7 separate regions of the Homo sapiens genome follow, and all the other regions are reported to be linked to region 1. Evidence: microRNA targets listed by miRTarBase, many of them from high-throughput screens and not tested one by one. Region 1 holds a microRNA gene; each other region holds the end of a gene's coding sequence.
What was found. The annotated mature microRNA hsa-miR-1-3p reads UGGAAUGUAAAGAAGUAUGUAU and lies in region 1 at 2,551-2,572, shown strand. An mRNA with a match to its seed (bases 2 to 7 or 8) in the 3' UTR can be bound and repressed. Matches are read on the target gene's strand: a 7mer-m8 pairs with bases 2 to 8, a 7mer-A1 pairs with bases 2 to 7 and ends in A, and an 8mer does both.

Region 1 (4,067 bases):
AAGCAAGATTGAGGCTTCCTCAGCTTTTGGATCGACAATCGACAGCTGAGAGGCTATTTTTTGCTATGGTTGACTAAATATGGTCAGGGAAGAGAGAGGCACAAGAGAGCCTGTTTGCCTGGGAGTGCATGTTTCAAATGCTTAGCTGCCTATAAAGCTGTAACAGTTTAGCCAGTGGTCACTGAGGAAGAATATAAGTTAGCCTCGTAGTGACCATGTGGAAGTCCTGACCTCGCTTGCAGACTTGACCTCTGGATGTGACAAGGTAGCTTCACTACAGCTCTACTATTTAATCCTGGAAACTAAAAACCAAAAAAAAAAAAAAAAAAAATCTAAAAGCAAGAAAGATGCAGACTATTTCCTAAGAAGTCAGAAGAACCCAATGTATTCTGGAGGGCAAAGAAAAACAGGGTGAATGTTTACAGTTATTTGGGGGGAGTAAGGTGTGTTTTGGGTTCTGTTTTTGTTTTTTTTTTTTTTTGTCTTTTTTAGACTATAAAATTAACTTCTGCAACTTTTTCCCCTCTTCTGAAGCATTTCATCTGACAAGCTAGGTTCATTTTCTTGGCCTTTGTAGCAACCTTTTTTGATTGCTTAACTTTCCCTATATAACTGTGCAAGACTGTTATATGACATTCCAAATCAAATGGCCAACACTGATTCAATTTTAGAGTTGTTTTTGTTGGTGGTTTTTGTTTTTGTTTTTGTTTTTGGTAAAGGGAAGAGGGGAGGAGAGGGAAAAGTAAGCTTGTTTTTTGTTTGCTCGTTTGTTTTTCAAATTTATCTTAAAAGGTGAGGTTCTGTGTTCACTGATACATCCCCTTCCTTCACCGGGCTCATGAAAAGAAATGCTGAATCAGCAAATAGAGTGAACGAACAATCAAGATGAGATGGCTGCTGTTGATGTGATTCTCTAGGTTACTACCTTTCTTCCTGCTGCAAATGCTGCATGACACTAAGCTTACAGGTAACAGAGCACCATAAGGCCTGTACTTTTAAGGATGCTTATGACTTTCTGCATGCTTACCTATTATTGACTCAATATATGTTCTCATTGTTAAATTAAATTCTATCTAACCATAGCCTAATTTCACAATTCAAGTTAAGAGCTAATGTAGTGTAAAAAGGAATATTGTTCAGATACTATGGCAGTAACTTTTTATCTTAAAAATGTACAAATACATTATTGTCATTTACATTATTAAAGATTTAGTCATTATTGTTTCAGATTAAGTGATGATTTTGCATCTCTAGTAAGTCACATCCTGCTTCCAAAGTATACTTATTTTCTAAAACTATTAGCTTCTATTTCAAGGTTTAGTCAACCAAGAAACTTGGCAGATCATAAAATACTTTTTAATGCTTACTAATAATTGGCCACAAAAATAAATCAGAACGTGCATGGTGTAATTCTAATGCTGCATTGCTGAAACTGCTGTAGTGCTGGGCTATCTACTGCTACATTCTGATTTGCTCTCTATAAGCTGCACTAGCTTTTTATCACAAGCTGCAGAAATTCTACTATCCCTGCCCTTTTTTTTCCTCCTTTGACAAATCTGAAAATTTCTTGAGGTTTTAAATTAACCTTCTAATACCACAATAACTGAAGGCTACTTACCAACTATAATTTCTTTTCATTCTAAACTATCAAGGTAAATAAAACCCAGGTGCTCACAGACTAAAACCTTTCAGTTCTTTGAAGTGATACTTTCTAAAAGTTGACGATTCTGACAGTTATCCTTTATACTAAAAAGATTAAAGAATCAAAACAACTTAAACTCACCAAAATTAGATATTTCTACATCTATTTGAATTTGTATTCAACTCATATTTGTATTTAACCCAAAGAGAAGCATCAAAGTGCAAACTTCAGGTAAGGAACTAATAAAGAAAAAAGAATGACAAATTTTCAAATGATCACGAGTTCTTATCTGTGACCTTATAAAACACTAACAAAAATTCATAATCTTTAAAAAAGTTCAATTCACCCACACTCATCCTGGTTTTTCTCCTTGTTGTTTCAACTTCTAGAGTCAATATCAGAAATACTTATTGGTTAATTTGTTAGGTTTTGAGTAAGATATCTAGTTTGTAAAAAAAAAATTGAATTTAATTAATTACTATCTACCTGTAGGATCTAGAAGCAGACTACAAAAAAAGAAGAAATTCACTCTGAAGACTGAAGAAACACTAGGCTGATCTTAAGTTTCCGAAATACACTCTGTAACACTACACTGATTCTTTGAATCTCTTGCAAAAAGAATCAAACCAGGACAAAGTTCAACAGATAACTGGTCAAATGCTTAGGAATGTCTATGTCCACCAAGAATATGGAACCATTAATGCCATGCTTCAGGTAAACTTGTTACAAAATTTAGTCTTCGATAAATTAGTCTCTGCAAATGATTTACCATTGCTCTACATTAGTAAGCTGAATGTTTCACTAACAAATAAGAAAATAAAATATTTCATGTTTTTACAGCTAACAACTTAGTAATACCTACTCAGAGTACATACTTCTTTATGTACCCATATGAACATACAATGCTATGGAATGTAAAGAAGTATGTATTTTTGGTAGGCAATAAACCACCAAGGGAGAATTAAACTGAGCTAAAAGAAGCTCTTGCTTCTTTCTACGTGAATGACCGTCATATGGTAAATTAACCTAGTCATGAACAGATGACCTTTGGCAATACTAACACCAAAAAAAAAAGGTTATCTACTACTGATAGATAGAAACTATCCCTAAGGTTTTTATTTCATGAAGGAAAAGAAGATCCAGTGAAGTAGATTTCAATTATCATGAAACTCCTTTTAAATCATCTAAGTTTAAAACAGACATCTTACATTTTTAAATTAGGCACTCTCATTATTAAAATTTGACTGCAAAAGGGAAAATAGTATTACTAGCACAAAAGAATGAGGAATACACATGACCTATTTTCTGTCTCCACAATTTAATCTTAAGTATATCTCATTAGTAGGGCTCACTGATTTGTACAGAAAAATAAGATACTAAGAGCTGGCTTCATTCACATAATAAGCTATTTCTTCTCATTTTGATAAATGTATAATTAATATTAGAGGAATTTCTGACCAAAAGTTTTGTTGTTTTAAAAAGGCTTTCTTTTTTGACAGCTACAAACATAGTGGCCCTTGTCCTTCCTTCTCAAGTTTATCAGGGTCTTAACCCAAATCTCTACTTTAAATGTGAAGTTAAAACTTAAAATTAATTAAAATGTAAGATTTAAGCATGAAAAATGACAAAATTCTGGTCCACAGCTGTAAGTCAGCAGGGTATATTGGTAACAGACTACCAAATATTTAAAAGAAATTAATTTATCTGTATTATCTTCGAATTTGCTTTCTCCAAAGAGGGCATGTAAAATGAAAGCACTATAGTCAAGAACCAATTTATACAGATCGAAGAACTGTTTTTATTGTACTATGCAATTACAATTCAATTTCTCTAAACTTGATCAATCCATTGTTTAGAAATATCAAAATACTTTTATTTCACACAGTTTGTATATTATTTATAAAAAATTCCAAATAATGCTCTTAGCAAAATTTATAAGCAGTACCTGTTTTAAGCTACTAATGACAAAGTTAGAAAATAAGAGTAATATTCACATATTCTAACCATTTCTTACTAAAAGTATTATTTCAACTGAAATATTTACACATGTATAAAAGCATAATATTTTAAATTTTTTGTATCAGAAATTGAATGGAAATGACTAAGTTTAACTATAGTTCATTTTCTGTTTAATAAGACTAGTTAATACAAAGATGATTTTCATTTTATCAGATTATAAAGAATGAGAATGACTTACACATGGCATCATATGTGTTACTGCATGTTTACTGGAAATTATAAAAGGCACATAATTTTAAAATTCTACACTTTCAAAGAAATTAGTTCAAAGCTTAACTCACATAAGCATAGCCCTTCTGATCATCCACAAAACAGAATGGCAATGATTCATGTTCTATTTGGTAAGTTTACCTGTATAGGTCCTAAATACCAAGAACTCAAAATATATACCTCAAAAGTAGAGGTT
Region 2 (4,067 bases), not on the chromosome of region 1:
CAGATAGATTCTTTGGTGAGTAAAGTCTAAAAATAATAATTAAAAATTCTTGGTTATATTCTATTTTATCCTATAGACATTTACTTAACGATGCCATGAGATAGCCTCCTTATAGTCCTTTTTTCTTCCCCTGCATTTCTTCTCTTTCCTCTTGAGGGGATGGGTCTGCTAGCACTGTCTACAAGGCTGGGAGGCAAAGCTTTCAGAAAGACTGATTTTGGCTTTAGTACCCAGAGCCTTCTAGCAAGGTTTGCCTGGGCATCTGTTTCTGCAGACCTCCAGGGGCCCTCTGGCTGAAATAGTCGTGCTTAACTTAAGTGTTCAGGCTCCAGAGATGCTACAGCTCCTTCTGTGATCTTAGGTGAGTCACCTCCCTTTTTGGGCCTTGGATTTTCACCTGGAAAGACAAAATGTTGCTCTTTCTTAATGTCAGCAAGAGTTCTCCTGAGGGAGCTCTAGATTAGTCCAATACCCAAGCTGTGTTTTGGGGGAGTACAGGCAGTATCAAAGCCAGTGGATCCATCAAAAAAGATGCCAATCTCTGGTGGTGCAAATGAAGTACCTATTAGTAGGTGTTCCCTCTGCCCTGGCAAAAGTTACCACATTCCACCTAGAGTTCTCTGGTTTCTGGAGTTCTGAGATCAAAGCTTGCCTGGGCTATCAGTGTAAAGAGAGAAAGCTGTCCTAAGTGGGTTTCCAGAAACCATGCTTTTACTGGAAACAGAGCAAGAAATGTGACAGACCATCCCATCAGTTTACCCTTCAAGCTGATGTGGACTGTAATATAATTGAATGTTTCGTCTTCATGTTTGAAAAATATTAATTTTCTGTGAGTCTCCCAACTTATTTACTGCAAATCCTCATGCCCTAGAGTGTCTACATCATCCCTTTCATTTTTCCTACTGGATACTGAAGCAGGAAGCATGGGAAAGGGGGGCTCAAGGGTTTGACTGATGAAAAACCCAACCAAAACTCATCAATCTGACTTACTATGCTGTCCTTTGGACTGTTTTGTTCAGTGGCTTCTCTGATTCTGACTTCCTCTTAAATGTATTAGATCCATGTCTTCTAAGCTCAGATCTTTATTTTTTTTCATGCCACTTCAACTTCTTTATGTAATCTCAAACTCTTTCTCAGAGGTATGAAAGAAACTCCCCTCAACTCCCTTGTTTCATAGATGAGAAAACTCACGATAGAAGGAAATTGAATCGTTTGCTCAAGATTAAATACTGGCCAAGTTCAGACCAAGCACCTTGTCAACATGGGCAAAACTTCAAAATTTTCTTCAGAGTCACGCACTGAGAAACAGTTTATGGATAAAGTAAGCTTTATAAACAATTCCCCAAAGACATTGGACTGTGCCTTAAAGAGAAAAATGAGGATCAATGAGGACGGAGACTCTGCACAGGACATTGATTACGCATGCCTGAAGACTGTTATTTGAAATCCTTCTGATGTGTCACTGTTAGGACGACAGTGATCACTACATGCTAATATTTGTTAAATGCCAGGAATTCCTTCAGACACTATTAGAGAAGGGCAAGGAAGATTCTCGAGGGCTAATCAAGCTCTTAGAGAATTCAGTTAGTAGTGACCATTTGCAATACTGCAATTGCAATACTGTGCTCTCCAGTGAGCTGACAAGGCCAGCCAAGGCAAAGTGGAGAGGAAGTGGTGCTTTGTGGCAGAGGACCTAGAATCAGTACCTGGTGTCTCTACCTCCATGGGCACACGGCCAGTCCTAGGCTATCACGAAGAAGCAATGGTACTCAATGTTCCTTAAGAAACAACATCCTTAATGTGAGAAAATAAAAAGCCATTGGAAACCTCTACTTGCTCTGAGCAGGCCATTTTCTAAAAGCAACTTTGGTATATAACTTTGTATAATTAGGTATGTTTTGGGGGGTTGTCTTGCCATTACTTCCTTCAGTCCATTAATATGGATAAAGCATCTCTCACCACACCATCAGCTTAAACTGTTGAATCCTGCCTAATAGCCTGAGCCAAGTTAATGGATGAAGTCCCTGGAGAATTTTTCAGGTGAAGGAGAAGCAGGAGGCTGCTACCCAAGAGAAGACAGAGGTGTTAAAGCTGCTTTTTTGTTTTGTGTTTTTACCTCAATGCAGTATAAAATCAACATTTAAGATACAGATAAAATTCTTTATATAATTAGCTTAGACCGTAATATCCTTCTAATTGTCACTTTTCTATGAAACCGTCTTTAACCATTTATTTGCCTTTATGGTACTTAATCACGTTGGCCCACTCCTTACAAATTTCAGTAATGATTCCAAATCAGTACAGTAAGGAAAAAAATATTTATTTTCTAAAGTCATTACCTTGACAGGCAAAACAAAGCATGTTCTCAATTTCATTTAGAAATACATATTTTAAAAATACATAGACCAATATGGCCTGCCCAAACAGATATTTAACATGGTAAATATAAGGAATAAATTGTTTGAATATAAATATCTATAAAAAAATAAGTACATCAAAATTCAATCCAACCTCTTTCATTAGCCGGTTATATAAAGGAAAATAATTTTACTGCTTTAAAGCGTAACAAACACTTACTTTTCAATATATTTCATAAACAACCCTATACCATTGTGTCTCCAAAAATCAAGGACAGGGAATCTCCTGATTTAATGATCTTTTTTTTCTTATGGATCAGAGCTAGTAGATTACCATGAAAATATTATATCTACTGCTGACACATTAGACCAGACTTCTACGAGGCTAGGATTTAGTATGGGGGATGGAGGAAGGGGCAGCAGGGGTGGGAAGAGTTTGGGGAGGCAATAATTAAATGTGGGAAATACTTCTGCCAGAGTGCAATATAGGTGAGGTAGACTCATATTCATGAAACATATCCTGATTTATGGTAGTAACAGTTTCATTCAGTTTTGCATTTTACAAATTTAAACAAAAGTCTTTCTTTTTTTTTTCTTTACTTGCATGTTTGTCTTTTGAGTGTGTTTTCAATTTGTGCATTCCTTAGAAAATCTTTGTGTGGACTTTGGAGTTTCTCCCTGAAATGTGCCAGGCGCCTGAGTCAGACACAAACACTCCCTTAGGACCTTCGTCAGAAACTCCACCCCTGTGTGGAATCTCCTTCCTCTCTCTCTCTCCGGAGGATGCCACCCGAATTCGAATGTGACTGTGTGTTTCTGCTGAGAGGTCCATTGTCATCCCCAGATGAAAGAAGAGACCAAAGCAGTTACCACTGATGGAAGCCAGTGAAGATGGTTGGGGGAACTCCTTAACCTTTCTTGGAATGTTTTGAACGAGGACGCTGGTCCTTTGCCAGTCAGGAACCAGCAGAGGATGCTCCTGCTCTGATCCCAGCCAGGGTGGAGAGTGCAGAGTCGGCCACAGGGCTCTCCGTGGAGGCTATGGCTTCAGACAGGCCCCGAAGGTCTGTCACCAATGTGCTCGGTTGTGGGTCACATAACGCTCTCTGGAGGGCTTGCCTTTCAGCTTGGGATCATGAAAAGATGATTTGACGCTGTTTCTCATGGTCTCCGACCTAATAAAGCAAGATAAGAGAAAACAAATGTTATTTTAAAAAAATCACCCTTTGGCAAAAGAAACATGTAAAATTAGAATCTGGCACAAACAAAACCTGAATCTGGTTGTGAACTTTCACCACCCGCCGCAACTCTTTGATAAAACCTCAAGTGATATCTATTACCATTGTAAAAATAAAGCCTGCCCCTATGCTTAGAATGGGAGCGAGGGGTCATATGGTCAAGTCTAAGGGGAAGTGGGCAGTAAATACAGGTTTTAAATAAACTAGAGTTGTTCTGGTTTCTTCCGTAGCCCCATCCCAACCTTCATCACTATGTGACCCTGCCTTGAGGAACTCAGCATAGGTTTTGAATAGTTATGGCCATCTTAATAAATTGACGGTGACTTAGTTGAAAAGAGAGAAAAAGAAAAGAAGCATACAGTAGGCCCAGAGCAAATACTTTATGGCAATTATTTTTAAAAAGATTTTTTTTTTTTGCAGGCCTAATGTTTTACAGGAGAAATACAGAGGGAAGAACTGTAATGTTGATTTA
Region 3 (4,067 bases), not on the chromosome of region 1:
AGCTGGGTGTGGTGGCGCATGCCTGTAGCCCCAGCTACTAGGGAGGCTGAGCTGGGAGGATTGCTTGAGCCTGGGAGGCAGAGGTTGTAGTGAGCCCTGATTGAGTCACTGCACTCCAGCCTGAGCAACAGAGTGAGAACTTGTCTCAAAAAATAAAATAAAATTAATAAAATAATAAAATAAAATGAAAAATAAATGAAAAAAAAAAACCCTACACCTAGGCATATCATATTCAAATTACAGAAAATTAAAGAAAAAGTCTTGAAAGAAGCCAGAGGAAAAAATATCCTCTAGAGGAGCAAACATAAGAAATTCATCTGATTCCTTTTCAGAAACAATGCAAGCAAGAGAGTGCAGTGAAATATTTAAAGTGTGGAGGGAGAGTATACGGAATTATTCAGGGGGGGCCAATTTAATCACTTCAGTCCTTACAACAGGGAGGCAGGGAGGTCAGAATGAAAGTGATGTGATGGATGCAGAGTTGAAGATGCTAGGCTGCTGGCTTTGGAGAAGGGGCCAAGAGCCAAAGAATGCAGGCAGCTTCTAGATGCCAGAAAGACAACAGATACTTGGCCGGGCGCGGTGGCTCACGCCTGTAATCCCAGCACTTTAGGAGGCGGAGGAGGGCGGATCATGAGGTCAGGAGATCAAGACCATCCTGGCTAACATGGTGAAACCCTGTATCTACTAAAAATACAAAAAATTAGCCGGGCGTGCTGGCGGGCGCCTGTAGACCCAGCTACTCGGGAGGCTGAGGCAGGAGAATGGCGTGAGCCTGGGAGGCGGAGCTTGCAGTAAGCCGAGATCGCACCACTGCACTCGAGACTGGGCAACAGGGCAAGACTCCGTCTCAAAAAAAAAAAAAAAAAAAAAAAAAAAGACAACAGATACTCTTCTAGAGCCTCAAAATAATAATAATAATAAAAAAAGCCAGCTCTGCTGACACTTCATTTTAACCAGGTGAGGCTTATTTTGGAATTTTAACCTCCAGCATGGTAAAATAATAAATTTGTAAGGTTTTAAGCAACCAAATCTGTGGTAATTTCCTGCAGTAACAGGAAATTAATACATACACATCTATAGCATAATAGATACTATATTTGCACAATGGAATAATATACTGCAGTAACTATTGATAAATGCAACAAAATGGATGAACCACAAACCTGATATTGAAAGATACCTGGCACTAAAATAATATTAACTCTGTAAGATTCAATTTTTATAAAGCTTAAAAATAAGCCAAACTTATCTGCATATTTGTAAGTTACGCAGTGGTTACTTGGTGGGTGGGGATACTGATTGAGGGGGCACACTCGAAGCTTCTGTAAGTGCTGGGTAATGTTCTGTTGCTTATTTTGGTGCTGGTTATATGTGGTCACTTTGTGATACTTCAAACCATACACTTGTACATTTTTTCTGTATTGTATACTTCAATAAAGTTTGCTTAAAAACAAAGTTTTAAAACAAATTTCCTTGCAAAAAATTGTACAAAAATAGGTTTCAGGTTTTGTTTTTTTTTTTGAGATGGAGTCTCACTGTCACTGGGGCTGAAGTGCAGTGGTGGGATCTCGGCTCACTGCAACCTCGGCCTCCCAGCTTCAAGCGATTCTCCTGCCTCAGCCTCCCAAGCAGCTGGGATTACAGGCGCCCACCACTATGCCCAGCTAATTTTTTGTATTTTTAGTAGAGACGGGGTTTCACCATGTTGGCCAGGCTGGTCTTGAACTGACCTCGTGATTTACCCGCCTCGGTCTCCCAAAGTGCTGGGATTACAGGCGTGAAGCTTTCAGATTTAAACATGATCTATGCAAGGTCTTAAGATTAAACTAAATCCCAGAGTGAACAATTACAGTAAACTGAAGTAACAACTCAATTAATTTCAAGGATTTTCTAGTACACATTCAATGTCTCACACACACAGAATGAGTTGGTTTATGCATGCAAACAAGGTAGCAGATATATCCAAGTACACCAAATACTGTCAGCAGTTTTCCTTTTTCCATTAGTTCCACTTACTTCATCGAGTACTGATTTAGAGAGAATCTACACCACCCTTTTTGCAGAACCCTTTCTGGACTAAAGATTTTATCACTGGCATTGTTTATCTCAAATATTTTATCAGATAAAATGTTTTCATAAATTTTTGTATGCCCATGAACACCATTTTATCCTCATATACATGCACGTGTGTATTCGTTTATCTCTTAGGTCAGAAAGCTTAATAATTATATTATTAATTAGGTCGAAAATTTTAAATTAGTCAGCCCTCTGTATCCGTGGGTTCCATATCCATGGATTGAACCAATCACAGAAGGAAAATATTTGAAAAAAAAGTTGCATCTAAACAGGCACTTTTTTTGTTATTTTCCTCTGAACAATACAGTATAAGTATATACATAGCATTTACAGTGAATTAGGTATTATCATCTAGAGATGATTTAAAGTAAACAGGAGGATGTGAATGTTATATGCAAATACTACACCATTTTATATCTGGGACTTGGGCATCTGTAGATTTTGGTACCTGAGGCAGGTCCTGGAACCAATCCCTCATGGATACCAAGGGATGACTGTACTAATGAATCTCATTTATTAGCTGACACATGTAAATTTAAACATAAGAGAATGCAACAAGTTATTTGAACCTGAATGCAGAGAATAAATACTTTATTAACTGATTACAGTTGAAAGTCACAAACAAAAAAGGGGGTATATTAAGGCAAAGCCATATATATATATATATATGTATAGACAAATCCAAAGATTGTTACTTCTTTACATTTTAATAACCTCTGCATTTTTCTTTTACACATTTAGGCAGTGTGCTTTCTTTTCTCCTCAGTTAAAGCAACACCTTGGCCAATATTTCTAAATCATATTTTGATGACAACTTACAGGATCAGTGATTGAGACAATGACTAGTGTATCAAACGCTATCTGATAGTTTTCTTAGCATATTCCGTGTGTGGTGGTACATTTATTGTGGTGTGCAAAATCTGACAACTGACGATTTTTCTCTGTCAGCAAAACTAACAAATTTTTAAAAATGATTTTAATAGTTATAACTAAAATAAGCTTAGACTTCCAAGTCAGTCAAATGCCCAAACTGCATGTTTTCTGCCGTTCCCCAAATCCTTTTACATGTTTTAAATAGCCTTTAGAATATGATCGATCACATGGCTGTATTTCAGATCTAAAAGTTTTGAGATTTTCAAAATCAAAAATTACTTTCTTATGCAAAATGGCAATGCAAACAGCAATCCTACATAATGTAGAATAATTTTTCTTCTGTACGGCTCCTTCTAAAAAATGGGTAACCACACACACACACACACACACACACGACATAAATTTAGTCCATCTGAAGAAGCACTCCAGCTTTCTAATTCCACTTTTGAAGGAAAAGGCAGAGGCATGTTTACATTATCCCAGAAAACAGAATAAATGGCTTTATTTGGTATCTTCAAGAAGCTTCTCCTTCCGTAGGAGATGTAGGTGTTGTGGGAGAAACTGTAACTGGTTTTCGTGTAATTCTGTCTAGTTCTGCATGAACATCTAAGACAGGCTTCTGGCCTACATTGAAGAAAAAGAAAAAAAACAAGATTTAGATATAAGTGAAAGTATCGTTTTCACCAATATCTCTTCATTTAAAAAGTCCTAACACTTTCATTAACTTTATTTAGCACACTAAGTTATACAAACAACACTTAATTTAAAAATTTCAAGCTGGGTGTGGTGGCTCACGCCTGTAATCTCAGCACTTTGGGAGGCCAAGGTGGGAGGATCACTTCAAGTCAGGAGTTCGAGACCAGCCCGGCCAACATGGTGAAACCCTGCTGTAATCCCAGCTACTTGGGAGGCTGAGGCAGGAGAACTGCTTGAACCCGGCAGGTGGAGGTTGCAGTGAGCTGAGATCACACCACTGCACTCCAACCTAGACAACAGAGTGAGACTCTGTCTAAAAAATAAAAATAATATAAATTTCAAGAAAAAACAAATTCCCTCATTTTAAATTGTGGATCTGTTACCAAATGGAGGTATAACTGGCACCTATCATTTAATCT
Region 4 (4,067 bases), not on the chromosome of region 1:
CCACTTCTTTCCCCACCCCTTCCCAGGATATCCCCTTCCCCAGGGGACTGAGAGCTGTTGTCCTACCATGCTGGGGGGCAGGGGCTTCTCCAGAGGGTCTGGCGGGCAGACTGGACAGCAGCTACAGGGAAGGATGCTTCACACTCGAGGTCCCTTCCCACAGGGGCAGCAGCGGCTCAGAGAATAGAGGAAGTAAGATTTTTATACCAGCCTAGTAGCTCCCCCTCCACTCCACCCTGCCCCCAGTGAGGAGGACAGGGTCCCATGAGTCAAAGGCCATTTGCATAGTCAAATGGCAGACAGCTCCTTCACCCCTTCCTCTTTCCACTCCCCTCTCAGACAGCCTACATCCCATGAGGGCCTCACACCTGTCCTCTACCAAGCCCAGGGAGGAGCTAAGGCCCAGAGCTCAGGCAGAGAGCAGGGAGAGATGGGAATTCTGGATAGCACCAGTAGCGGGTACACCTTGCTGGGCACTCCCCATTCTAAGAGGACACTTCCACCCTCAGGTCTTGGCTCCTGCACCACAGCTGGTGCCCTCAGGACAGCGGCTGCCGACTTGTCCTTTTCTGCCCTTGTAGGCACCATCTCCAGAGTTCTGCAGGGCCTCATGCGTGGAGGGCCAGGGTGTAGCTTGAGCAGGAGGCTAGGCTGCACCTGCCTTCACCACAGCCTTGCAACATCTTCCGGAAACAAGACCTCCTCCTCCACATTCCCAGAGCCCCTGGGGCCCCATCAGAGCACACACCACGTCACTCCAGATGGGGCTCCTAGAGGCCAGGTGTGTGCTGGCCCAGCAGGGCCGCCAGCCAGTCCTCCCCATCAGTTCTTCCCACTCTCCTTCTGATCTAGGTGAGGAGACTCAGATTCCTCGGGCCCAAAGCCTTGGGTGACCCCGGGCCCCTCAGCAAGTTCTGCTGGGTCCACCATGCTGAAGGGTGTGCCCACAGCCCACCGTCCCCATGTCCACCAGCCCCCATCCTCTCTCCTAGACCCATGCAGGTGCCACCTCCCTTCTGGCTGTCCTGCCCTGCTCTCTGCCCTCCAGGGGCTGGTCACATTCAGCCCCTAGAGGGAACTGTTCAAACCTAAGTCACACTAGGTCCCTCCTCTGCTCAGACCCCTCCCTGGCTGACTCTGGAGTCAAAGCCACAGTCCACAGATGGCCAACAAGGCCCTATGGGACCTGCCACCCGCTGTTCCCCTGAGTGCTCTCCAGGCCCACTGGCCTGCTTGCAGTTGACTGTGTAGCCCCTGGGCATTCTCCTGCCTCAGGGCCTTGGGATGTGCTGTTCCCTCTGCCTGAAAACTCCCCCAAGTCTCATATGACCCCTCCTTTGCCTCCATTATGTCTCTGCTCCCATGTCACCCTCTCAACAGGGCCATCCAGCCTTCTTACAAACCTCCCACCCCAGATCTGGCACTCCTGAGCTCCTTTGCCTGGTCTATGTTTCTCTTTGTCCTAACATTTTTTAACTGCTAGCACACCGGATCATTGATCTTTCATGGTTTATTGTATATCGTCTTATTCCCCTGCTGGAATGTCAGCTTCTTAAGGGCAGTGATCTTTTATCTGCATCCCCAGGATCCAGTACAGTGCCCAGCACATAGTAAGTGCTTGATATCTGCTGAATTATGTACACCCAGCAGTCAGCTCTGGGCAGGCACAGAGAGGGTATTTCTGAGTGAAGGCTGAATGAATGAATTAATGAATTGTTGCTGCTGGGAGGAGGCAAGGCTGCACATCTGCCAGCCTGCTCCCCCCAGGCCCACTCTGGGTGGTATCATGGCAGGCAGGCTCCATAGTGCCAGGCATCTGGCTGGCTCAGCAGCAGGGGGCGATGGCATCGTCTTCCTGCCCACCTGGGAGCCAATGTTTCGGCTGGGCAAGGACAAGCCTCCTCTGGGTCTTAGCTAGTCTGGCTCTCCTCTCTACAATTCTAGGGGCTTGAGCAGGGGCTCAGAAAGGCGCCAGGGATAGAATGTTGCCCTGAGCCAGGAAGGAGAGCAGTGCCCACTCAGTAGCTGGGCTGCAGGCATCAACCCCATGCTTCCACTCCTGCCTGCCTGGGGTGGAAGGCACCTGCATTCATTCCCTCCATCCACCTCTCAGAGGGATACACCAAAGCTCGGGCTCCTGTGGAGCCCCAAGCCTGAGACTTTCCCAGAGTCCCTTGGACCAGGGACCCAGACCCCCATACCCAGCAGTGGCCCTGCCTTCTTTGGAGGCAGAAAACCAGAGAGGCCAGTAAGCTGACAGAGGGGTCTGCACACACAGGTACAGACCCACGCACATGGACACACTCAGCTTGGAGACACCGATATCGATGTCCACAGAAAAACTTGTCCTGGCCTCAGCCCAGGGAGGCTGGGAAGCCTTCGAGGAGGAGCCCTTATCCCATGTGGGAGGCTGCATAAAGTCCCTCTCAGAGATCCTTGTCCTAATTCCCCAAACCTGCAAACACGTGACCCCAACACCCCACAGTGTGGCAAAAACGACTTCGCAGATGTGATTAAGTTACCCATCTTGACAGGGGTAGGTGGTGGGGGCAGGGAGGGTGAATGCAATTACAATGTCCCTTATGAAATGGAGACAGAGGGAGATTCGACTACAAAAGGCCATGGGAGCCCAGAGGCTGAGGAAAGCAGAATCAGAGATGTCACCTCTGGCTTTGAAGGTGGAGGAAGGGGCCCCAAGCCAAGGAATACAGCCAGAAAAGGCCAGGAGATGGGTTCTTCTGAGGGGCCCAGACACAGCCAGCCCTGCCAACACCTCAACTTTGGCCCTGTGAGACCCATCTCAGTCTTCCAGCCTCCAGAACTGTAAGAGAATACATTTGAGTTTCTTCGAAGCCACTAAGTTGGTGGTAATTTGTTACGGCAGCCTCAGCAAATGACCATATGCAGATCCCTCATGTCACAGTGGAGGCGCGCCTGCCTCTCCAGCAGGGCTCCTGTTGACTGGGAGACCCGCGTGAGGCTGCACGCCCACTCACAGGCACAGCCTCTCCCACACACCTGGAGGTGGAGTGCTGGGGCTCCACCTCGCAGGCCGGCACTCCCCTCTCCCCTGTTGGGAAAGGACAGTTATATGCACAAGACTGCCCAATTCCCAGGGCCAGAGGCGGTCTCTCAGGGCCAAGCACAAGTCTTGATTTAAAAATATTTTATTCTTTAGAAAATACAGCATTCAACCATCCCAAACTGCAGTGACCCCTGCCCCAGCCCTGACTGACCCCACTTCTTGTGGCCAAAGGTTTCTGGGCTGTGCTGGGACCCTAGTCTCAGCTCCCCGGGAGGCCAGGTTCATGCCAGGCCCCTGACCCAGCCCCCTTAAGCCAGCCAGGCAGGGTCCCCGGACACCCTGGGCACACAGACGAGATGCAGGGACAGCAACAGGGAAGGGTCACAAAATGCCAGCCCGGTGGCCCTCGGACGCTGCAAGTGCGTTCAGCTGCCAGCCCTCCTGACCTCCCAGAAACACTTTCCTGGAGCCCAGGAAGGAGGATGGTGGCAGGGAGCGGAAGGTGGGCAGCCCCACAGTCCACACGTGGCCGGCCCTGCTCCAGCCTCCTAGCTGTCATCCCCATTTTCACCCGGGCCGCGGATGAGGCGCTTATGGCCCCGCTTGCCCCCTGGGCCCTTGGGCTTGGCGAAGGCCTGCTTGAAGGCGTGTTGCTTGGGGTGCACCTCGTCGTAGAGGAACTCTGCCGTCAGCTCTGCCCCATCGCCAATCTCAATCTGCATGGGGCAAGGCAGTGGTCACCCCAATGGGAGGGGCTCTGACACACACCACCCCTGGTAGCCCCCACTCCTGGGGCACCCCTTACTCTCACATCCTAGCCCTGGGGTCTCCTGAGGTCTCCCCTTGATTCCCCACCTGGAATGCCACTCCCAGGAAAGCAAGAGCTTAGGGCCTGCTGCCCTGCATGCCTTGGACTCTGCTCGCTGGGGTCACCTCCTCCCTGTCTCCAGGCCCAGGGAAAGGACATGACATGGTAGCCAGGACTTGGACTTTTCTGAGCCACCGATCAGCTGGGCAGCCTTGGGCCATGCGTGTTGCTCCT
Region 5 (4,067 bases), not on the chromosome of region 1:
GCCTGCATCAGGGACTGCAGCCGATGGCCCCTCTGAGCCCCGCACTGTCCCCATCTCTTAAGGCAGTACGGGCTCTGGAGCAGTTTGCCACTGTGGTGGAGGCCAAGCTGATAAAACACAAGAAGGGGATTGTCAGTAAGTGAGCTCTACACCATTCCGCCCCTCCCTTTCCTCTCCTTGAGACTAATGCCCCCACCCCCACCCCCACCCCACCTACCGGACAGATGAACAGTTTCTGCTGCAGCGGCTGGCAGACGGGGCCATCGACCTCTATGCCATGGTGGTGGTTCTCTCGAGGTGAGGAGGCAGGCAGGGAATGCCTGAGCCGCAGGGGGCCTGGGCCTGGATCCCAGCCGGCCCAGATTTATTTTCATCTCCTGCTTCCTGCCAGGGCCTCAAGATCCCTGAGTGAGGGCCACCCCACGGCCCAGCATGAGAAAATGCTCTGTGACACCTGGTGTATCGAGGTGAGACTCGGGGCTGCCAAGCTCAGGTGAGGGCTGGAGGTGCAGGCCCAACCCCTCCTTCCCTCTCCCCAGGCTGCAGCTCGGATCCGAGAGGGCATGGCCGCCCTGCAGTCTGACCCCTGGCAGCAAGAGCTCTACCGCAACTTCAAAAGCATCTCCAAGGCCTTGGTGGAGCGGGGTGGTGTGGTCACCAGCAACCCACTTGGCTTCTGAATACTCCCGGCCAGGGCCTGTCCCAGTTATGTGCCTTCCCTCAAGCCAAAGCCGAAGCCCCTTTCCTTAAGGCCCTGGTTTGTCCCGAAGGGGCCTAGTGTTCCCAGCACTGTGCCTGCTCTCAAGAGCACTTACTGCCTCGCAAATAATAAAAATTTCTAGCCAGTCATGCTTTGCTCCTGTGTGACGGTTCTTTCCCCCTGCTGCCTGCCTCCCTCCCAAAGAAAGGAGCCAGAGGCGTGGGGAGTTTGCCTCTATTGCTTTATTTGGTGTTTTATACAAGTGACTAAAATAAATAGAGTAACAAAGGCAGCTACATGGCCCAAATCTCCCAGCTTCCTCAGGCTGCTGTCTAGGATGCCTAACCCCGGGGTACCGCTGACCACCCCCAACCCTGCAAAGGGCAGGGCTGTGGGTAACTGGAGGAGGAGGTCACATTCTGGGGTTAGAAGGGGCCCAATGGATGGGAATTCTTCATATAAAAGAGGAAATGCCTATTAAAAAAGTCCCAAAAATGTAAGAAACTCTATTTTAACCCCCAAAAAGGCTTATAAAAAAACAAAGCTAAAAATAATCAAAGGTCCCTTGTCTACCCCTGAGGGAAGGGGGAGGAACCAGGCACTGCTGGTGAGAGTCACAGTGGCCACAATCTCCTGTATGGCAGCAGCTGGTAGGCTGAGCCCAGGCACTGTAAGAGCAAGCACATGACGGCCAGGACACCCAGTCACACACCAGGAGCGCCCGGCCCAGCCTGGCCCCACAGTGGGCTACATAACATCCACAAAGAACTCGCTGGGATTGCCCATGGCCATGTGGAAGCTTTGGCGGCTGGCTGTCAGTTCTGGGGGCACAGAGCCCAGGTCTCTGACTGGAGGGGCCCCCGGAGGCTGCACTGCTGGAGGGACTGGAGGTGGAGGTGGGGGCATCATGACCACCATCATGGGGTTGTAGGGGAGGGCCATGCCAGGGGGCGGTCCATAGGGATGGAGCCCTGGGTGGGCTCGGAGATTAGGGGCACCCCCAGTTGAGCCTCTGGATGGAGGAGGGCCCCCATCGCTAGTCCCACTTGCTTCCCCACCCCGCCGAAGGCTGCCCCCTCGGCTGGAGGGCTCAGACTCACTGCCACTGCCGGACTTGGACTCGGGGGCCCGCTCCTCGGGCCTCCCCGTGCGCCCTGCCCCCCCATCACTCCGTGTCGACCCACTGCTCCGGCTGCCTGTGGAGGGAGGGGAGGGGCAACTGAGTCCTCACCCAGGCTCCTCCCTGGCTCCCCTCTCATCCACCCTCAGATCCTGGCCGTACAGGTATGTGGGGATGACTTACCCTCACTATGCTGGCTGCTGGCACTGCCCCCACCATAGGTGTAAGATGAAAGCTCATGGTAGGGTGGAGGCTGCGGGCTGTAGGGGTGTGGGGCAGGGTATTGGTAGGAGAAAGTGGGCAGCAGGGGCCAGGGGGTGGCCCCAGGCAGAGGAGCCAGGGTATCCTGGTCTGAAGCCCCACTGGAGCCATCGTTGTCATTGAGAGACAGGTTGACTAGGTCTGGAAAGCAAGGGAAGAGAGGAAGAAATCACTGCTTCAAGAGGCTAGGGCCCCAAGACACCGAATGGAGAGGAACTGGGAACAGTTCTCCCAGACCCACCCACGATGGGGCTCAAAACAGGGGTTCACAAGGGTCTCTGACAAGAAACTCCCATCTACTTCTGCCATGAGGGCAGGGGCACAGCCACTAGCCCACGTCTTTGCGGGACTCAGGTAAGAGGTGCACCTTCCCCCGGTGGACACAGTCCTGCACCTGGCACATGGCTTGTCCAGCAGCACATGGGTGGACGTCAGCCCCCATCCTCGGCCAGTGCAGGACCTAGTGCGGGACACACACTGCTCGACCATCCATGGTGGCCCTGGCTGCGGTTTCTGGGCTAGGTCTAGGGTTGGAGAGGCAGAACAAGGTAGGCAAAGCCACACTCCCAGAGTTGGGGCAGGGGGACTTACAGCTCTCACAGCCACCACTGAGGTCTCCGAAGACGTAATAGCACTGCTCAGAGAAGGTGATCTTGTTGACGGTGTGTCGGATCAGGCCTGCTTTGAGCAGCCCGCTGGCATACTTGCGGGCCTCCCGCCGCTCAGGAAAGCCCTCCACGTGATGGTAGAGCCAGTCAACCACATCCGAGCCTGGGAGCACCCACAGTGGAAAAAGGCCTCAGGTTCTTCTTCCAACTCCTGCTCTCGCCTCTGCCTGTGCCATTCCTGGCTTTGGTCACCACCTCCTCCCCTTCTCCAGCCACCTGCCCAGGACCCAGCCATACCCAGAAAGGCATTAGGGATGGTGATCTTGAGCCACATGCGGTCCCGGACTTCCAGTCCAGACTCTGGAGCTGCCATGGCCTTGGTCACCGATGCCATGTCCGTATGGACGGAGAGACCCCGGCCTTCACAGCCTGGCAGAGGAGACAACGGGTAACCAGAGTCAGGGATCGCTCCCACAAGGGCAATGGATCAGACCACTGCGGGACAGCCTTCTGCTGGGAGGGTGGGATGAGGTGGGCTGGCGGCTCACCATCAGGCAAAGACGATCCAGATGTAATGGTGCTCATGGAGGAGGAACCTGGATAGGCTGGGAAGGTGCCAGTCAGAGCCGCGGAATGGGACACCCAGGCAGCAGGGTCAATTGGCTGGATGGGCTCATCTGGGACAAAGATGGCACCAAAATGACCCATTCTCAGTCCCCAAAAGCCAGCCCAGTCCCTCCCTGACTCAGCCTCCTGTTCCACCTCTGCCTGGACCCTCCTCCCACCCATTCCCCATGACCACAGGCCCGGCCCCAGCCTCCTGGGCAGCCCCCACCCCCAACTTCAGGCCCCTCCCTGAGTGTCACTCACTTCGGGGGAGAGTGAAATAGGCCTGAGGAGAGGGATCCCAGCACTTGGCCACAGTCAGCACAATGGGGCTATGGGGAAGAGAAGTCCAGTCAAGGGCGCAGGGGAAGAGGAGGCCTCAGGAGGGCGGGGGTCTGAAGCAAGGATGGATTAAGAGACACAAAGAGGGGGAGAAGCAAGCACATCGCGGCTGGGCTAGAGAAGGTGAGGGTGGAAGGCACCACAATGTGGATGACTCATCAACATGGAAAACTCTTAAAAACATACTGCCAAGTGAGACAAGAGAGTACACGCTGTACAGTTCCATTCACAGAAAGTCCAAAAACAGGTAAAACGAAACTGCAGTGTTCAAGGATACGTGCAAGGGTGGTAACTATCCAGTGAGGCAAAGCTTTTCTTTGTTATGGTGATGGCCAAAGAAGTCAGGAGAGTGACTACCCCTGGGGCAGTGAGGCATTTGGGAGCAGGAAGGGACATCTGAGGAGGAAGTTCTAGGGTATCAGCAATCTCC
Region 6 (4,067 bases), not on the chromosome of region 1:
CTCCCCCTGCAGCCTAGCACCCTGTCCTAGCCAGGGGCGTCTTCATGAAATCTGGTGGCCTCCTGCTTGGAGCCCTCCAGGAGCCTCCCACAGCTCCTCAGGCAGCACCCCCAGCTCTCTTCCCCAGGCCCACGCAGCCCCACTGGACCTGCCCTGCCCATCTCTGTCCAGCCTCTGCTGCTCTGACCTGTGGCCTCTGTCCTGCACGCTGGCCTCTGGCCGCTCCTACGCCTCCGCTTCCTGCTGAAAGATCCCTTTGTCAAGCCACAGGGCCCTGCACACCGTCCAATGGACCCACACCACATGCCCCGCCTCTGGCCTCCTCACCTGCCCTCCCCCTGCTCATGCTTCGGGTCTGGGTTTGGGCGTGTTTTCTCTGGACCTTTCCTGAAAACCAAAGTTAGTCTGCCCCCACCCTGGCCCCCCACCGTCAGCGACCTGTGTGTGGCCACCGCTCCTGGACTCTCTCCTCCCCGACCCCCAGTGCCTGACACCTGCCAGGCACACAGGGTCGGTCAGCATATCCCCAGAGGACCAGGTGATGAAAAGCCCAGAAAGCAAACACTCAGACGCATGGGACCTCCTGGGTGTGGAGCTTGTGGGTATTATCTTTTCATTTTTTTTTTGAAACGGAGTCGCGCTCTGTCGCCCACGCTGGAGTGCAGTGGTGCAATCGCGGCTCACTGCAACCTCCGCCTCCCGGGTTCAAGCGATTCTCGTGCCTCAGCCTCCCGAGTAACTGGGATTACAGATACCTGCCACCACGCCCAGATGTTTGTGTTTTTAGTAGATACAGGGTTTCACCATGTTGGCCAGTCTGGTGTTGAACTCCTGACCTCAGGTGATCCGCCTGCCTCAGCCTCCCAAAGTGCTGGGATTATAGGCATGAGCCAATGTGCCCAGCCATTGGTGTTATTTTATTTCGATGTTTTTGTGGTTTTCTTTTTTCTTTTTTTTTTTGAGACGGAGTCTCCTTCAGCCACTGAGGCTGGAGTGCAATGGCGTGATCTCGGCTCACTGCAACCACCGTCTCCTGGGTTCAAGCAATTCTCCCGTCTCAGCCTCCGGAGTAGCTGGGACTACAGGCACCCACCATCATGCCCAGCCAGTTTTTGTATTTTAGGAGAGACAGGGTTTCACCATGTTGGCCAGGCTCGTCTTGAACTCCTGACCTCAGGTGATCCACCCGCCTCGGCCTCCCAAAGTGCTAGGATTACAGGTGTGAGCCAGCGCACCTGGCTTTTTTTTTAAAATCATTAATACAAAATAGAAAACTACACTTAGTTATTTTTCATAAGAGACAGCAGTTTGCGAAGGGCCACCCAGCTGGCCACACACCCTACCCCTTCTTCCCCTGCTTCTCCCCAGGGCTCACATCTGCCGGTGCTGGGTGCCAGCTCTGTTTTTTAGACAGGTTCTCGCTCTGTCACCCAGGCTGGAGTGCAGTGGTGCAATCACAGCTTGCTGCTGCCTCAACCTCCTGGATTCAAGTGATCCTCCTGCCTCAGCCTCCGGAGTAGCTGGAGCTACAGGTGTGTACCACCACGCCTGGCTAATTAAAGAAATTTTTTTGCAGAGATGGGGTCTCACTATGTTGCCCAAGCTGATCTCCCACTCTTGGCCTCAAGCGATCCTCCAGCCTCAGCCTCCCAAAGTGCTGGGATGACAGGTGTGAGCCACCGCGCCCTTCCCTGAGGCTCAGCTTCTGCAGTGCTGTCACCCACACACTAATTTAGGAAGCAGGTTAGAGGGAGTCCAGGAGCCCAGCTACCCCAGGGGTTTCTAGTTAGGGGCTTCCAGCAGTGCCAAGGGTTGGTTCTGCACACCTGGGCCAGTGAAAAGGCTGCCCAACAGCCCCACGCACCCTGGCTCCCCCCAGACCCTTCCAGTCCTGGGTGCAGCCTCCTCCCAACCCTGTGCTCTGACACAGATGTGGGCCAATTATGTGTGCAGGCACACACACACACACACACACGTGCACGCCAGAGAGCAGGCACACACACCCACACATACACGCCGGAGAGCAGGCACACGCACCCACACACGTACATGCACCCACACATGCACGCCGGAGAGCAAGCACACGCACCCACACGCACACGCACCCACACATACACGCCGGAGAGCAGGCACACGCACCCACACACACGTACATGCACCCATACATGCACGCCGGAGAGCAGGCACACGCACCCACACCCACACGTACCCACACGTGCACGCCAGAGAGCAGGCACACGCACCCACACGCACATGCACCCACACGTACCCGCACCCACACGTACCCGCACCCACACGTGCACGCCAGAGAGCAGGCACATGCACCCACACGTACCCGCACCCACACACACACACCCCCACACGTACACGCACCCACACGTGCACGCCAGAGAGCCTCCTGCCTCCACGGCCCCGCCTCCCACAGTGCTCAGCAGTGTGTGCTCCCCACTCAGGGCCTCATCAGCCACAAGGATCCCTGTGCAGGGCCTGGCTCCATCCAGGGCCACCCAAGGGAGCTCCAAGTCCGTGCTCCCACCACAAAGCGGAGCAAGAAGCCAACGGGCCAGCGCGCTGGTGAGGATGGACAAAAGCAATGCTTTTAAAGTTTTCAGACTTTATTTCACAGCGATTGACACAGAAACATACTAGAGTTAGTAACACGGCACCCAGCCCCACCGCCGCCCGCTTCATCGGGTCCTGCTCCTAGGAGGACTGGGCTGGGGCTGGGGGTGGGGATGGGATGGGGGTGGGGAAGGGACGGGACGTTGCAGTTTAAGGCATTTCTGGCTTCGGAGCCATCCCTGCCACCTCTGCACCTGCCCCTTGACCTTGGTCAGACACTGGCTGGCCCCTGGTCATTCTGAGACAAGGACGACTTTCACTGACGCTGTGGGGAGGATTTGCAGTGAGGCAGCCCTCAGCCGCTCTCAGGCGAGATGGGAAAGATGAGACCCACCACTCCAGGGGTCAAATAAAATCAACACATGAAGAACACAGCCATGGCCAGGCCCAGATACCCAGGCAGGCGGCAGAGGTCAACCCCATCCCACAGTGAGCTCCTCTCGATAGCCCCTCGCAGGGCCTGGGGTGTGGCAGAGGGATACGGTCACGTCCAGGGTGGCTGGGCAGGGCCAGCTGAGGGTCAGGACACCCAGATCGGCCCTGGTCTGGCCTCTGCTCCTCAGCAGCCTGGGGCTGGCGCAGGCAGCACGGGAGCAACGCAGAGCTGTGCCCAGCAGTAACATTGTTTGGAAGTCACAGTATTGGCGCAGGAGGCCGAGGCAGGGCCCAGAGCACACACAGGAAGGAGCAGCTCAAATGGGGGCTTGGAAAGGCCCTGTGGGGTCACCCGGAGGAAGGGCCCCATCAGACCTCAGCAGCCCCTTCCTCTCTGGGACACGAGTCCCGCCTGACGGAGCGAGGGTGATTCAGGAGCCGGGGCTGCTTCCCGGCGGGGACACCGTGGGGCAGGCGCAGTGCAAGGCGGGGGCTCAGCACCTTGAGGCAGGGGTGTGTGTCCTGAGGCTGCCATCCACGCCGAGCCCTCCACGCTGCCACCTCGCCTGTCCATCCCTCGGCACTAGGTCTGTCTGCAGCACGGCTGCCTGGACGGAAGGGAGGCCGGGCCAGCAGTCCCTCCGGCCAACACTCAGGCAAGAAAATCATATCAAAAAGCAACAAGTTTACAAAAATAGAAAATAATTACAGCGGGCGCGGGGCTCTGGTGCCAGCTCATGGGGTGGGGCAGGGCCGCAGCTCTGGCTTGGTGACGGCGTCCTCCAGCAGGTGCAGCGGGTGCCGGCCCACCACCACGTCCCGCAAGCAGCCCACAAAGCCTGTGCCGTAGGCCTTGGGCAGTGCTGGGCCCACGGGCAGCTCCGGCAGGCCCCCTGCAGCACAGACAGTGGGAGTCACCCGGCTGTGACTCAGTGATGCTGATGGGCACCCCAACGAGCAGGTGACCAGCAGGGGGCCCACACCTGGGCACCCGCCTCCCGGCCCCACAGCACTGGGAACTGCAGGGGCTACAGCGGGAGAAGAGAGCCCAGCCCGCCGGCTCACATGCA
Region 7 (4,067 bases), not on the chromosome of region 1:
GCCCGGCCCCATGGCGTACGCAGACAGCATGGAAAACTTTTGGGATTGGCTGGCCAACATCACGGAGATTCAGGAGCCATTGGCAAGAACTAAACGGAGGCCAATAGTAAAAACAGGAAAATTTAAGAAAATGTTTGGATGGGGTGACTTTCATTCCAACATTAAAACTGTCAAACTCAATCTCCTCATCACAGGGAAAATTGTTGACCATGGAAATGGAACCTTCAGTGTGTATTTCCGACATAATTCAACAGGCCTGGGCAATGTTTCAGTGAGCTTGGTACCACCCTCCAAGGTGGTGGAATTTGAAGTTTCCCCCCAGTCTACCTTGGAGACCAAGGAATCCAAATCTTTCAATTGTCGCATTGAGTATGAAAAAACAGATCGGGCGAAAAAGACCGCCCTGTGCAACTTTGACCCATCCAAGATCTGCTACCAGGAGCAGACTCAGAGCCATGTGTCTTGGTTGTGCTCCAAGCCCTTCAAGGTCATTTGCATTTACATTGCCTTTTACAGTGTTGATTATAAACTCGTGCAAAAGGTGTGCCCTGACTACAATTACCATAGTGAGACCCCATACTTATCTTCTGGCTGATCTTCCTGCTGTGGTGGAAATGAGGGATACATATGTATTTGATTAGAATGACAAAGAAACAAGCCCAGCTCTTTATGATAAAGGATCCCTTTTGTTTCTGGCAGTGAACAATAGTTCCCTATCAGGTTTTCAAATTTAAAAAAAGAAAAAGAGACATCTTTAAGTGTGAAATTTGTTTCTTTCTATCGTAGGTACCTTTATCTAAAAAGTTAAACTGTTTATGAAACCATCACTTTCATGCAAGATGACTAAGTTCTAGAAATCTTATTGTTTCTCTGAAAGAAACATCAATGATAGCAATATGTGACAAGAAGGAACAAAATTATGCATGTGACAAACATTGCTCTTGAAATGAGCCTGCCTTTGAAATATGTTTTGGAAGGTTACCGCAGAAACAGCAGATGCGGTAAAGGAAAAGATTGTATTTGATAGATGAATTGTGTTTTTGACATTGGACCCTTTTTTTTATATTTCTATCTTTTCCCCCATCCATCTGTGCTGTTATTGATATGAGAGAAAAAAAGGTAAAATTTGTTTCAAAATTCATGTGTGAAGTTACAGTGCCACAGTGGAACCAAGTTCCTTATCATCTGAGCTACAGTTGCGTGGAATGTGATTTGAGCACTTAGCCCTGTGTTGGTCACCATTCTTATGATTCCCCCTGAGTTTGAATACTGATGTAATGGGAAAGCAAATCTGAGAATAAGTTTGTTGAACGATAACAAAAATCATGATGTTTTTAGACTCTTCTGATAAATTCAAATGCTGTGGAATTAATCAAAAAATGACAAAATTTGTATGCATCCTATAGCTTAGAGCTTTATTCAATTCATTCGATAGTGTGATTCTTTACACATGTGTAGAACAGCTCTGAAGTTGAGTGAAAGTGCTTGTTTCCTAGACTAGAATAGAAAACAAAAGTGGGAAGTAGAGGGAGGAAATTTCAGGATTATGGATTCATTATTTCTAGCCTCCCAGATTAAGTTCCCCTTGCATTTAGTTAATATTTGAATAAGAGATCAAACTCTATGTGGAAATAGAGAGTTATATTTAAACATTTCTAATTATTAAGTGCTGACAACCAAGATACCTGGCTTACCAGACTTTTGAAATGACTTTCAAATTAATGTCACTTCACAGTCAGTGCCCTTCTCATCTTCCCTGTGGGGGTGAATAGCAGTCCTATATGGTAGAACTGAATGATCATTAAATTAGAACAGAAACAGGGGTCTGGTTGGCCAAGAAAAAGGCTTCTAGAACTCAGGACGCTCATGGAATGGTCACTCCTTTTACAATAGATGTTAACTTCTTTCTCCCTTCTTATCTGTAAAATATTAATTAAAGTAAAACATTAAATTGAGGACTAAAGGAAGAGAAGTCCTAAACAACAAGAAATACTCTTACCACACTGTTCAAAAAACCAAGAGCTCTGTTCTCTATCTTCATTTCTTTCCTTTTACCGGTAATATCTGCAGTGTTCAATTTTTGTCTTTTGTAAAAATTGTACTAAGCTTAGTGTGTGGTAGTACAGGCTTGAAGTTCTTGCTCTGAGTTCACCACATGTTTTTGTAATTTTGTGGTTGGTGATTAATATTTTGAAACATCTTTTTATTTTCACCTAGAAACAAGAGTAAAATATTATTTATTGTAAAATATGTGGGAATCATATATCTATATATATATACTTAGAATTTTCTGTGTACAGAGAAAGTATGTGTACACATTTTATGTAAATAAAAAGAATTTGCTAGATCTGTCACATTAATCCTGGGTGGTTATTTTTTAAAGACTCTGTTCTCCTTGTTTCTTTTCCTCACAAGGGCTTATTCTGTGCATGTGTGTGTGTGTGATACCAATTGAACAAGAAGGTTTCCCTTAGATACATGTTAAATAGGCATCTTGGCTGTGGAGATTTTAAAGTAGGGCAAAAGAATAACTCACATAAAACATTTTGTACATAGCATGGCATCTAGTAAGAAAGAACTCTACTTGTGAGCTGCCATTATGATTATTATTGTTTTGACGTGAAGTAATGAGGTTTAAAACTATCTGATGTTCCAAAGTTGAGAGATGTGAACATTATTTCTATGCAAAAAAAAAAAACAAAAAAAAAACTGTAAATTGATTTATACAGTTCTTAGATGTTAGCAGCGTTTGTGGAATTTTTTAAAAGTTTCCCATAAGCTCGTTTGTAAGTTGGAGTAGAATATATGCCACATATATTTCTAAGTCATAATTTCATTTCAAAGCATACCTAATTGTCAGTAATGGTACTTGGCACAATATAAATCAGAGCCCACTTAAGCATGCAAATACACACATTTCTACAAAACTATTTTTTGCCCTTTAGTACTGCTATTGAGGAAAAGGATATTCATGGAAGCTAATTTTGCACTCAGTCACAAACTGTTTAAAAACTAAAGCAACAGAACTTTTAAACGTATAGACATATTAACATATAGAAGAGTAATATTTCAAAGAGAGTGCAGCCTACACTACCTTCTTAATCCTCTTTTTTGACAGACAGGAAAACCCAAGTCCCCATGAGGGTAATGATGTGCCCACTAGTAAATGGCAAACCCAACTGAAATGCATTTCTCCTGACTCCTAGTCCCAGCTCTTGCGTTACATAAGAAAGGTAAATTGAAGCAGGTATTCAAGACAACAAAAATAATTGCAATGAGTTTATAACAAGACAGGACCCAGTAGCCAAAACTGAACCTGAAAACGGTGAAAATAACCTCCCCCTAAAATATTTAGGATAATAATTTATCTATGATCACAAATTTTTTAAAAACTGCAACTACAGAAAAGTAAGTCAGGATAAATCCTTATATCCAAAGATAGGAGTCCTGGAATACATTAGCAATATGACTGGCTAAGAATTAACAGCAGTAGAACACTACATTGGGCAGTTTTCAGGTGATTATGGCACCTGAGAATATATTTTCATAGGAATTGGTATGTTTTGGGGAATATCTTGATTGCCTAAAGGTTTGATTTCACCTCATAAAGAATTTTAAATTAATTAACTGGCCTGTAAAATGTAGAGGATGGAGTCATGCATTCTTACTTGCGGGGAAACTAAAGTTAACTCAATGTTGATTAATCAGAACTCTTAATGAATGACAATTTAATATTGCCAATTGCAAGAGACAAATCAGGATAACAAGTTCATATTAGAGATTATTTTTCCTTCAGGAAAGTCTTGTAGATGATACTCAAAGATCATTTCATCTTCACCCCAATCTCCTACCCCATATTCTGAGGTCTGGAATCCTGGGAACACAACCCATTCTGCTTCATTTTAAAACTTCCCTTCTCTACATTCAACTCAGCTGTCCCATAAATACAGACAGTCCCTGATATACAATGGTTCAACTTACAATTTTTCGACTTTACGATGTTGCAACAGCCATACGCATTCAGTAGAAACAGCATTTTGAGTACTCGTACAACCATTCTGTTTTTC

Region 2: miRTarBase lists EDN1 as a target of hsa-miR-1-3p. Seed matches in the 3' UTR shown: 8mer at 3,277-3,284.
Region 3: miRTarBase lists DYNC1LI1 as a target of hsa-miR-1-3p. The part of its 3' UTR that is shown has no 7-base or 8-base seed match.
Region 4: miRTarBase lists TWF2 as a target of hsa-miR-1-3p. The part of its 3' UTR that is shown has no 7-base or 8-base seed match.
Region 5: miRTarBase lists ACADVL as a target of hsa-miR-1-3p. The part of its 3' UTR that is shown has no 7-base or 8-base seed match.
Region 6: the mRNA of AGRN is a reported target of hsa-miR-1-3p. The part of its 3' UTR that is shown has no 7-base or 8-base seed match.
Region 7: miRTarBase lists NXPH2 as a target of hsa-miR-1-3p. The part of its 3' UTR that is shown has no 7-base or 8-base seed match.

What each region holds. Positions count from the first base shown.
Region 1 is chr18:21,827,520-21,831,586 of GRCh38, reverse strand. MIR1-2 (microRNA 1-2) reads left to right here and starts at 2,499; the gene lies at 2,499-2,583. The region is part of intron 12 of MIB1 (MIB E3 ubiquitin protein ligase 1); the gene reads right to left. MIR133A1HG (MIR133A1 host gene) reads left to right here and starts at 181. Exons shown (of 3, transcript NR_110369.1): 1 at 181-265; 2 at 793-967; 3 at 2,135-4,067.
Region 2 is chr6:12,295,427-12,299,493 of GRCh38, reverse strand. EDN1 (endothelin 1) reads right to left here. Exons shown (of 5, transcript NM_001955.5): 5 at 2,300-3,532. The coding sequence ends at 3,427. Among named protein-coding and RNA genes, the nearest start is that of EDN1, 7.1 kb to the right of the region's middle.
Region 3 is chr3:32,523,333-32,527,399 of GRCh38, forward strand. It overlaps DYNC1LI1 (dynein cytoplasmic 1 light intermediate chain 1), which reads right to left. Exons shown (of 13, transcript NM_016141.4): 13 at 2,642-3,576. The coding sequence ends at 3,467. Among named protein-coding and RNA genes, the nearest start is that of MIR548AY, 19 kb to the left of the region's middle.
Region 4 is chr3:52,225,461-52,229,527 of GRCh38, forward strand. TWF2 (twinfilin actin binding protein 2) reads right to left here. Exons shown (of 9, transcript NM_007284.4): 9 at 3,152-3,741. The coding sequence ends at 3,574. TLR9 (toll like receptor 9) reads right to left here and starts at 185. Exons shown (of 2, transcript NM_017442.4): 1 at 67-185. The coding sequence starts at 69. RefSeq lists enhancers at 1-64, 317-818, 575-664, 819-1,318.
Region 5 is chr17:7,224,418-7,228,484 of GRCh38, forward strand. ACADVL (acyl-CoA dehydrogenase very long chain) reads left to right here. Exons shown (of 20, transcript NM_000018.4): 17 at 63-135; 18 at 225-297; 19 at 392-467; 20 at 540-849. The coding sequence ends at 680. DVL2 (dishevelled segment polarity protein 2) reads right to left here. Exons shown (of 15, transcript NM_004422.3): 10 at 3,560-3,627; 11 at 3,238-3,366; 12 at 2,987-3,118; 13 at 2,673-2,852; 14 at 2,004-2,222; 15 at 925-1,896. The coding sequence ends at 1,448. Among named protein-coding and RNA genes, the nearest start is that of MIR324, 3.1 kb to the left of the region's middle. RefSeq lists an enhancer at 539-1,038.
Region 6 is chr1:1,054,647-1,058,713 of GRCh38, reverse strand. AGRN (agrin) reads right to left here. Exons shown (of 36, transcript NM_198576.4): 36 at 2,598-3,890. The coding sequence ends at 3,733. Among named protein-coding and RNA genes, the nearest start is that of RNF223, 18 kb to the left of the region's middle.
Region 7 is chr2:138,667,450-138,671,516 of GRCh38, reverse strand. NXPH2 (neurexophilin 2) reads left to right here. Exons shown (of 2, transcript NM_007226.3): 2 at 1-2,360. The coding sequence ends at 595. Among named protein-coding and RNA genes, the nearest start is that of LINC02631, 68 kb to the right of the region's middle. RefSeq lists an enhancer at 159-882.